3 linked regions of the Homo sapiens genome follow. The protein of the gene in region 1 purifies or fractionates together with the protein of each later gene. This does not show direct contact. Each region holds a gene or a part of one and is shown in the gene's direction. Other genes may lie near its edges.

Region 1 (3,749 bases):
GTAGATAGCGGTAGAAGAAATAGTGAAAGCCTTTTTTTTTTTTTTTTTGAGGCGGAGTCTCGCTCTGTCCCCCAGGCTGGAGTGCAGTGGCGTGATCTCGGCTCACTGCAATCTCCGCCTCCTGGGTTCACACCATTCTCCTGCCTCACCCTCCCAAATAGCTAGGACTACAGGCGCCCTCCACCACGCGCCCGGATAATTTTTTGTATTTTTAGTAGAGACAGGGTTTCACCGTGTTAGCCAGGATGGCCTCCACCTCCTGACCTTGTGATCCGCCCGCCTCAGCCTCCCAAAGTGCTGGGATTACAGGCGTGAGCCACCGCGCCCGCCCGAAATAGTGAAAGTCTTAAAGTCTTTGATCTTTCTTATAAGTGCAGAGAAGAAAACGCTGACATATGCTGCCTTCTCTTTCTGCTTCGGCTGCCTAAAAGGGAAGGGCCCCCTGTCCCATGATCACGTGACTTGCTTGACCTTATCAGTCATTTGGACGACTCACCCTCCTTATCCTGCCCCCCCTTGTCTTGTATACAATAAATATCAGCGCGCCCAGCCATTCGGGGCCACTACCGGTCTCTGCGTCTTGATGGTAGTGGTCCCCCGGGCCCAGCTGTTTTCTCTTTATCTCTTTGTCTTGTGTCTTTATTTCTTACAATCTCTCCTCTCCTCACAGGGGAAGAACACCCACCCGCAAAGCCCCGTAGGGCTGGACCCTACGTTAGCCTGCCCTGCTCGGGGTTGGCGATGCTGGAGGTGGGCCTTGGACCAGAGAAAATGCTTTAATTAGGTGACAAGCGGGCAGAGGCCTTTGTCTCTGGCGCCGGCAGCCACGGCCCCCGCTGACGGCGTGGGAAACAGACCCTGTTCCACTCCGGTCTCCAGCCTTGGAATGGTTGCCTTCGTGCAGTGCAGGTCTGGAAAGTAGCAGTTTGGCACGGGACCCTAGAATTCCCCAAAAGGAGTGACTAGGGGCTGGGATTCTGGAATTTGAGTGTGGACGGTGAGGCGGGGGGTGTGGGAGATCGGAGACCCTGGTGGGCGCGGGAGCACCTGCAGGCTGGAGGCCCTCGCGCGCTCCGGCGGCAGCCTGGCAAACAGGTTCTCCATCCCCCAGGAGGACGCGGCAGAGGGCGGACGATCGCTCCACTCGCCGGGACCAGGTGCGGGGGCCCTGCCCAGCCGCTGGGGCGTGGCCAGGCTCGAAGCACCCAGGTGTCGGGGGCCGACTCTAAGCCCTGGCACCGGAAGAGAGAGGGCGGCGGATTGGACCTCCCGGCTCCAGCATTGCAACTGGGCGCTCCGTCTCCTGGTCCACGCAATGATGCTGCGGCTGCTCAGAAGCCAGGTAGCCTGCCCTGGGTGAAGCCTTCGCGCAGGTCAATGACGGGGCGGAGGGGCAGGGCGCGGTCCCCTGCATCCCCGATCTGGGGAGCGGTGGGCCCAGGGGCCATCGCCTTAGCCCCTGGCGCTGGGGCTCGGCGCCAAGTGACGGGCGGGGCTCCACCTTCCAGCCATCCGCCCGGCCCGGGAGGGCGGACGCTGCGAGACTCCCGGCCGCGCCCTCTCCTTCCTCTCCTCCCCAAGCCCTCGCTGCCAGTCCGGACAGGCTGCGCGGAGGGGAGGGCTGCCGGGCCGGATAGCCGGACGCCTGGCGTTCCAGGGGCGGCCGGATGTGGCCTGCCTTTGCGGAGGGTGCGCTCCGGCCACGAAAAGCGGACTGTGGATCTGCCACCTGCAAGCAGCTCGGGTAAGTGGGGACTGCCCCACTCAGTTGTTCCTGGGACCCAGGAACAACTCCTTCAGAACCAGGAGGTGCACCCCCAACCTCTTCTCCAGGTCTTCCTAAGGCCCTAGGAATCTCCGCCACCTCCCCAGCCATTACTCCTCCAGGAACCAAGATGCTCCTTCCGCTCCTGACCCTCCAGCCTCTCTTGTTTTACTTGAACTATCGTTTCCCATCACCACCTCTGTGGTGGATTTTGCGCCTCACAGACAGGTACTCCTGAGAAACAGGCTGGTGGAAGAGTCCAGTATCAGCGGAACTTACAGGAGGGGAGACTCGAGATTCCTTCAGGAAAGGTGTAGGAACCTGGACCACTTTCTTTTTTTTTTTTTTTTTTTTTTTTTAAGACAGGGTCCCTCTCTGTCGCGCAAGCTGGAGTGCAGTCAGCGGTGCTATCGCGGCTCATTGTGAGCTCCGGGGATCCTCCCGCCTTAGCATCCGGTGTAGCTGAGACCACAGACATGTGCCACCATGCCAAGCTAATTTTATTTATTTTTTTTTGGAGACGGAGTTTCACTCTTGTTGCCCAGGCTGGAGTGTAATGGCATGATCTCAGCTCACCGCAACTCCCGCCCCCCGGGTTCAGGCGATTCTCCTGCCTCAGCCTCCCGAGTGGCTGGGATTACAGGCATGCGCCACCATGCCCGGCTAATTTTGTATTTTAAGTAGAGACAGGGTTTCTCCACGTTGGTCAGGCTGGTCTCGAACTCCCAACCTCAGGTGATCCACCCACCTTGGCCTCCCAAAGTGCTGGGGTTACAGGTGTGAGCCACCGCGCCTGGCCCATGCCAAGCTAATTTTAAAATTTTTTTGTAAGAGTGCTCTGTTGCCCAGGCTGATCTTGAACTCCTGGGCTCAAGGGATCCTCCCATCTCAGCCTCCCAATATGCTGGGATTACAGGTGTGAGCCACAGTGCCCAGCCAAACCATGGCTATCTTGAAAACCACTTGTCTTCCAGTCCCCATGCCCCGAAATTCCAAGGCTCTCATCCCTGAAACCTAGGACTCAGGCTCTCCCTACCTCAGCCCCAGGAGTCTAAACCTTTAACTTCCTCTTTCCCTGGGACTAAGGAGTGCTGCACCCCAGGCGCCTCCCTTACCCCACATCCCTCCTCAGCCTCCCCTCCTCAGCCTCAGAGCATTTGCTAATTCGCCTTTCCTCCCCTGCAGCCATGTGGCTCCGGAGCCATCGTCAGCTCTGCCTGGCCTTCCTGCTAGTCTGTGTCCTCTCTGTAATCTTCTTCCTCCATATCCATCAAGACAGCTTTCCACATGGCCTAGGCCTGTCGATCCTGTGTCCAGACCGCCGCCTGGTGACACCCCCAGTGGCCATCTTCTGCCTGCCGGGTACTGCGATGGGCCCCAACGCCTCCTCTTCCTGTCCCCAGCACCCTGCTTCCCTCTCCGGCACCTGGACTGTCTACCCCAATGGCCGGTTTGGTAATCAGATGGGACAGTATGCCACGCTGCTGGCTCTGGCCCAGCTCAACGGCCGCCGGGCCTTTATCCTGCCTGCCATGCATGCCGCCCTGGCCCCGGTATTCCGCATCACCCTGCCCGTGCTGGCCCCAGAAGTGGACAGCCGCACGCCGTGGCGGGAGCTGCAGCTTCACGACTGGATGTCGGAGGAGTACGCGGACTTGAGAGATCCTTTCCTGAAGCTCTCTGGCTTCCCCTGCTCTTGGACTTTCTTCCACCATCTCCGGGAACAGATCCGCAGAGAGTTCACCCTGCACGACCACCTTCGGGAAGAGGCGCAGAGTGTGCTGGGTCAGCTCCGCCTGGGCCGCACAGGGGACCGCCCGCGCACCTTTGTCGGCGTCCACGTGCGCCGTGGGGACTATCTGCAGGTTATGCCTCAGCGCTGGAAGGGTGTGGTGGGCGACAGCGCCTACCTCCGGCAGGCCATGGACTGGTTCCGGGCACGGCACGAAGCCCCCGTTTTCGTGGTCACCAGCAACGGCATGGA
Region 2 (3,649 bases), on another chromosome or scaffold:
AGCACTGAAATTTGTTTCCAAAGCACTTGTGTGTACAATATTTAATTTAGATCTTCTCAGTGGTCCTGTGGGTTAGAATAGCATGTGGTATTGATGTGTTCATCATTTTACATCTAAGGAAATTGAGCCTTCGGTTGTGACCTGCCTGAGGTCACTTAGCATGCCTGGGACTAATCACTCAAGGCCAAACTCTCTCCTGCCAGGCCAACATGCTGGGTTCTTGTTGGATCAAGGGGGATGAGAGATTTAAAGGGGCTTTGAGGAGAGTCAATGACCAGACACATCCACATTGGTAACCTGGATTGTTGTCAGGAGGGACACCTGTTCCTCCTGTAGGCAGGAAGGGCTAAAGGGTCTGGGTGGTCTGGAGCCTTGACAGCTTTGGCTCAGCTCCAAGTTCTTTTCTACAACTTGAACATACCTGTATTTGCATGAAGGAGGATGAGGGCCAGAGTTGCACTGGGGACTGACATTCTCATAGCCCTTATCTGTGGAGCAGCAAATCTTTGAAATGGAGGACTTGTCCTTTCCCCCAGAATGTTGCATGCCCTCTGGGAGAGAAAAGGAGAGGCAGAGAAATGATTACAATGGAAAACATGTAGGATGGGGTGAAAGGTTAAGATACCTGAGATCTAGTCTCAGCTCTCTGTTGCCCAGCTGTGTGACTTTAGGCAAGGCATAACCTCTCTGAGCCCCTGTTTTCTTTTTTCTTTTTTTTTTTGATACAAGAGTTTCGCTCTTTTTGCCCAGGCTGGAGTGCAATAGTGCAATCTCAGCTCACTGCAACCTCTGCCTCTTGGGTTCAAGCAATTCTCCTGCCTCAGCCTCCTGAGTAGTGGGGATTACAGGCATGTGCCACCACACCTGGCTAATTTTGTATTTTTAGTAGGGATGGGGTTTTGCCGTGTTGGTCAGGCTTGTCTTGAACTCCTGACCTTAGCTGATCCTCCCACCTTGGCCTCCCAAAGTGCTGGATTACAGGCGTAAGCCACTGCTCCTGGCCTGAGCCCGTTTTCTAATTGATAATATAGATACTTAATTTTTCATTTTGTTTTGTTTTGTTTTTTTAGAGATGGGGGATGGGGATCTTCCAATTTTGTTGTCCAGGCTGGTTTTGAATCCCTGGCCTCAAATGATCCTCCCGCCTCAGTCTCCTGAGTAGCTGGGATTATAGGGATGAGCCATCACACCTGACTCCCTATTATTTTATTTTTATTTATTTTTTTGAGATGGAGTCTCACTCTGTCGCCCAGGCTGGAGTGCAGTGAGGCGATCTCGGCTCACAGCAACCTCCGCCTCCAGGTTCAAGTGATTCTCCTACTTCAACCTCCCAAGTAGCTGGGACTACAGGCATGCGCCACCACCCCCAGCTAATTTTTGTATTTTTTTCTTTTCTTTTTTTTTTTTTTTTTTTTTTGAGACAGAGTCTCGCTCTTTTGCACAGGCTGGAGTGCAGAGGCATGATCTCAGCTCACTGCAACCTCCGCCTCCCGGGTTCAAGTGATTCTTCTGCCTCAGCCTCCTGAGTAGCTGGGATTACAGGCACCAACCATCATGCCTGGCTAATTTTTTGGTTTTTTTGTTTGTTTGTTTGTTTGTTTGTTTTTAGTAGAGACAGGGTTTCACCATATTGGCCAGGCTGGTCTCGAACTCCTGACCTCAGGTGATCTGCCCGCCTCAGCCTCCCAAAGTCCTGATATTACAGGCATGAGCCACCGCGCCCGGCCTAATTTTTGTATTTTTAGTAGAGATGGGTTTTCGCCATGTTGGCCAGGCTGGTCTTGAACTCCTGACCTCAGGCGATCTGCCCGTCCCGGCCCCCCAAAGTGCTGGGATTACAGACATGAGCCACTGCACCCGTCCGGTAATTGGTGATATATTTGTTAAATACTTGTTAATTAGCTGCCACTTATTAATTTTTTATTTTGTTTATTTTTGAGACAGGATTTCGCTCTGTCTCCCAGGCTGGAGTGCAGTGGCGCAAAGACGGCTCACTGCAGCTTCAACCTCCCTGGCTCCAGGCAATCCCCCCACCTCAGCCTCCTGAGTAGCTGGGACCACAGGTACAGGTCACCACATCCAGCTAAGCTGCCACTTATTCATATCTAGTTTAGAGGTTGTGAAAGGTACTTGCACAGCTAGAAAACATTGGGGTTTAAGCCCAGATTTGTCTGACTTCAGAGCCTGTGTTCTTTTCATCCTCATGCCCTGATTCCAAGGGCCTTTTCAGTTTAGAAATTCAATTTTTCCCATAATCATTTTGAATTGGGGGAGATTTAAAGACTTTAGTATTTTGAGCCTTGGCTGCTTTCTGTGGATCACTTCTTGGGTTTGGGGAAAAAGCTGACCCACTCCAAGTCCCACTGTGAAGCAAATAACCTTTCTCAGAGGTGGCAGCATGCAGAAAAATACAGGAGTGACGGGGAACTAGAGCTGGGGGCCTGAGGCTGTCTCTGGGAATGCCAGCCCATACACAGCCTCCTTTCCTCCTCACCGCCTCTCCCACCTGCCCCCTTTCCTCCTGAGGCAGGGAGAGAAGGCTCGCTCAGCACACCCAGGACCTGGGTTATTCCTGAGTCATCCATCGCCTGTGTGGGCCTCATTTTGCAGCACTCGCTCCCCCTGCAAATGTCTGAGTCAGGCATGTCTCCCCAAGGTTGTCTGCACACACTGCACTGGGCCAAACTGTCTCTTTAGATGCCGATAAACATCAACTGATACTTTAAAGCAGCCCGTGATTATATGTTGGTATTTTAATCTTATGGGCTAATCTAATTTTAACTGAACTAAGTTTTGGGTTGGGCCTGGATCAGTGGGCTGCCCGCCTTCCCTGGGATCATGCTGACTTCATTTTCTTCCCCCTAAAGCTCATCTAATATACAGAGCCGATTTTGGGGTCTATTAGGCCAGACCTGAGCCCTGAGTTTTTATACTACTTGCCAAGAATCCAGAGTTCCCCCCAAATTACCCCAGCAAATTCTTTCCTGAAAAGATATGTCCTTAAGCAGTTCTAACTGAGATTCAGGATGAAAAGCTCTGTTCCTTCCCAGGCCCCCTTCCCTGTCCCTTGGGAAGCACTTACCCCTAAGCCCAGACTGGCCTTGCCACAGTGCTGAGCCTGTTTGAGACCAGGCCACAGAAGGCGGAGGAGTGATATCACAGCTGTGTGTTAGAGCCCACAAGTTCACTAAACCAATAAATAGCTAACACTTGCATAGCATTTGCTGTATGCCAAGTGAAGCTGGAAGAGGCTGTGTCTTTGCATCAGCCAGCCAGGACCAAGAGCAGCTCGCTAAGATCCTGGGTGGAAGAGGCAGGTCAGCTGAAATCAGCTAGCAGGCATTTAGCATATGGCCATCAAGGAACAAAAGAAGAGTAAACCCAGGCCCTGCTCTTTAGGAGCTTCCAGCCTGCCAGGGCTGGGCGGACTCCTGGCAGAGGCAAAGTACAGAGGGAGCAAGCAGTCCCTGAGGACTGGGGTGTTTAGAGAAAGCCTCTCAAAGGAGGTGGAACATTAGTCTGAGTCTTGAAGGATGGAAAGGAATTAGATAAGCAGGCTATACTTAGTACCAATTTCCATAAGAATGTAAGCCTCTTGAGGACAGGGACTTTGTTTGTTCACTTTCTTTTTTTTTTTTTTTTTCCTTTT
Region 3 (3,649 bases), on another chromosome or scaffold:
TTCACTGTGTTAGCCAGGATGGTCTCGATCTCCTGACCTCGTGATCCACCCGCCTCGACCTCCCAAAGTGCTGGGATTACAGGCGTGAGCCACCGCGCCCGGCCAATGGCATTCTTTTTTAAATTAGTAAACCAAACTAGTAAAAACTAAACCCAACTCCTCAATTTTATTTCATCCTTCTCTTTTCAAATAATTACTGAAAACAAAATTTACATTGAAGAAAATTATGTAAACATTTCATCACTTGAAGTTTGAGGTTTTGTTCCTTTTTATTCTAAGGGAAAATAGGAATTAGAGTACTTCTGAGATATTGGTTACTTGGAGGTTTTATTTTCCAGGTTATTTACTGTATTCTTCACAGATGAAGTTTTGCTTATATTATGTCTATTTTATAAGTGAGATTACACAGTAAGAAACTTAAGTGACTCCATTGCAGCCATAAAGCCAGGACTATATATATTTCTAGACACCTTCTTCTGTTGTAGCCCCATGCCCCATAGACATGGAAATCAAGAAATTACATCATTACTTTTGAAATTGGAAGAGTGTCATTCCCAGTGATGTGCTTGGCCTAGGTGTCTCGAAATAATGATGTGTGGCAGAACCATGAAGCAGTTCCTGGAAGAGCAGAAGACACAAAACTCTATGCTCCCACCCATAAGGAGGCAGAATTTCAGGCTCCCCCAGAGCCAATCCAACAAGAAGTGGAACGCAGAGAACCTGAGGAGCATCAGGTGGAAGAGGAGCACAGAAAGGCCCTGGAGGAGGAAGAAATGGAGCAGGTCGGGCAAGCAGAACATCTTGAGGAGGAACACGATCCATCACCAGAGGAGCAGGATCGGGAGTGGAAAGAGCAGCATGAGCAACGAGAAGCAGCCAACCTCCTGGAAGGGCACGCGCGTGCTGAGGTATGAAGTCACCCGCTTCTGGTATGGTGTACTGGGATGGAAAACCTGGCTTTATTTTTACATATTAAGGTAATATATCACAATCTCTAAAATAGAAATGTGAGTGATTCTACTAAACATTATATGCTCATATTTAAGTTTTCTCTTGTAATGTTAATAGCATAGCTATTCGCATACCTCAGAAAGATGATTGGTGATGAGAGAGCACAGCTGTTGTATGTGTGCATTCTTCTTTTTGTCAGTTGTACACAGTCAGAGATTCATTCTCACATCACCTTAATAGAGTAGAACAGGTGAGTACCTGATGGGGCACCTTCCCAGCTTGTACCCAAGTTTTGTCTTGAGCATCTTGAGGCAGAGAAAAATCTCATTTTCTATGATCAGGCGTCCTCCTCTCCCTGTTCATTTATTGTCAGTATGTTGCCTTTTGTATTCACCTTCAAGGTGGTTATTTAATTATCAAAAATCTGATTTTACTACTTGGAGATATTCTACTAGGTGAGCATATCTAAACAGCCTCTGCTCAGGATCCCTTACTGGACACGCCACTTACACGTAAGACTTTTCCCTTTCTTAAAAAAAAATGGCCAGGATTATTATAAATGATGCTTTAAAAGAAAACTCTACCCTTTCTTCTTTTAAACCAACAGTTAGTGCAGCTAGATGCCTTTCTTTTACTGTCTCTAAACTGAGTCTCAATAGTAGGTTACCTGGCCTTTACATGGGTGTGGATCACCTTCTATTTATAACTCTGAAGTTTTATTCGGCCTCAGATTTTCTGAGACTTCAAGCCGCTTGAGGCTTTAGGCTAAGCAGGTGTGAAGACCTCTGTAGTTGCCCTCTTAGGTAGTTGCAAACTTAACCTCAGAAAGCTTCTTCCAGTCTTGTGTCCTTCCCCAATAGGGGAAGTAATTCCCCACCAGCTTTACTTCCCAACCCTCTACCTCTTTCCTTAAGTGAGAATTGTGTGTGCTTTTGTTAGTTGGGGTATGGCAGGGAGGATGGGTAGTAGCTCAATGGGGTACAGACACTTTTTATTGATGCATAATATATGTATATATTTTCAGAGTATGGGCGATATTTTGAAACATTCATATAATGTATAATGATCAAATCTAGATAACCCATCACATCAAACCTAGATAACCCATCACATCAAACATTTATCTCTTTTTTATTTTGGGAGCATTCAAATTCTTCTAGCTGTTTTGAAATATAAGATAGATTATTGTTAATCGTAGTCACCCTACTGAACTACCAAACATTAGGTCTTATTCCTTCTCTCTAACTATATGTTTGTACCATTCATCAGTCTCTCTTCATCCCCCTTCCCAGCTTCTAGTAACCACCAATCCACTCTATCTTATCAATATCGCTTTTTTAAGCTCCTACATGAATGAGAATATGCAATGTATGTCTTTCTGTGCTTGAAGTTTTTCACTTAACATAATGGCCTCCAGTTCCATCCATGTCACTGCGTATGACAAGATTTCATTCTTTTTTATGACTGTGTATATGTACCACATTTTCTTTATCCATTCATCCGTTGATGGATGCTTAGGTTGATTTCATGTTTTAGCCATTGTGAGTAATGCTGCAATAAACCTGAGAGTGCAAGTATCTCTTCAATATAGCAATTTCCTTTCTTTTGGATATGTGCCCAGTAATAGGATAGCTGGATCATATGGTGGTTCTATTTTTAGCTTTTTGAGGAACCTCCATACTGTTTTTCATATTGGCTATACTAATTTACATTCTCACCAACAGCGTACGAGGGTTCCCCTTTCTCCACATCCTCACTAGCGTTTGTTGTTGCCTTTTTGATAAAAGCCATTATAACTGGGGTGAGATAATATCTCAGGGAAGCAGAGTTTTAAGAATTGCTGTATCAGATTTCCCTTTAATCAGAAGGCACCATCTTCTCAGCCATTCTTAGTTTCTTTGAAAAAAAATTGAATATCTGCTTTTCCACTATTACCTGGAATGTGGCTTTTTTTTTTTTTTTTTTTGGCTATGCTTAGCCTGGGATTGGTATATACATTACTAGAGTTAATTAGCATCCCTCGGTCTTTAACTGTTCATGGAAAAAGCCTTAGGCGTAGCATAAGGTCACAGATTGCCCAGTTAATGTGAAGTTACCAAAGTTACCAACTACTTGTTTATATCAGAGCCTTGTGAACATAAATTTTACAGTTTGAAACTGTTATCTTCGGTTGTCCCTTCTGTTCCATTTGAGAAGGGAGCACATTGAAAATCTGCCTTAATAGCAGTAGTTGGAAATATCAGCTGCTAAAAAAGCCAAGGGTGATTCAGAGAAAGTTGGGAAATAGGAGTTTTTGGACTTCATGTATAATCACAGTTCACCTGACAAATAGTCGTTAATAAACCAGCTCTGCCTCCTGAGTTTGTCAGGAGAAACAAATGAAGAGAAAACCCAGAGGAGCTAACCCCTCTTGCTCTGCACCAACTCTTTTTCACCCTAGGTGTACCCTTCAGCCAAGCCAATGATCAAATTCCAATCACCCTATGAGGAACAGTTGGAACAGCAGAGACTGGCAGTGCAGCAGGTGGAGGAGGCCCAGCAGCTGCGGGAACACCAGGAAGCTTTGCACCAGCAGAGGCTGCAGGGGCACTTACTACGGCAGCAGGAACAGCAGCAGCAGCAGGTGGCAAGAGAGATGGCCCTGCAGAGGCAGGCTGAGCTTGAGGAGGGCCGGCCGCAGCACCAGGAGCAGCTCCGG

Evidence for each region.
Region 2: the proteins of FUT1 (region 1) and SLC9A1 purify together in Homo sapiens (affinity purification with mass spectrometry; 2 studies listed by BioGRID and IntAct, with this or other methods). This does not show direct contact.
Region 3: the proteins of FUT1 (region 1) and GOLIM4 purify together in Homo sapiens (affinity purification with mass spectrometry; 2 studies listed by BioGRID and IntAct, with this or other methods). This does not show direct contact.

Annotation. Positions count from the first base shown.
Region 1 is NC_000019.10:48,750,485-48,754,233, reverse strand, and holds the start of FUT1 (galactoside alpha-(1,2)-fucosyltransferase 1), read left to right. Parts: upstream 1-1,592; 5' UTR 1,593-1,744; intron 1,745-2,950; 5' UTR 2,951-2,952; coding exon 2,953-3,749. UniProt on the Homo sapiens protein: Catalyzes the transfer of L-fucose, from a guanosine diphosphate-beta-L-fucose, to the terminal galactose residue of glycoconjugates through an alpha(1,2) linkage leading to H antigen synthesis that is an intermediate substrate in the synthesis of ABO blood group antigens.
Region 2 is NC_000001.11:27,145,068-27,148,716, reverse strand, and holds part of SLC9A1 (sodium/hydrogen exchanger 1), read left to right. Parts: intron 1-3,649. UniProt on the Homo sapiens protein: Electroneutral Na(+) /H(+) antiporter that extrudes Na(+) in exchange for external protons driven by the inward sodium ion chemical gradient, protecting cells from acidification that occurs from metabolism.
Region 3 is NC_000003.12:168,029,779-168,033,427, reverse strand, and holds part of GOLIM4 (Golgi integral membrane protein 4), read left to right. Parts: intron 1-575; coding exon 576-908; intron 909-3,391; coding exon 3,392-3,648; intron 3,649-3,649. UniProt on the Homo sapiens protein: Plays a role in endosome to Golgi protein trafficking; mediates protein transport along the late endosome-bypass pathway from the early endosome to the Golgi.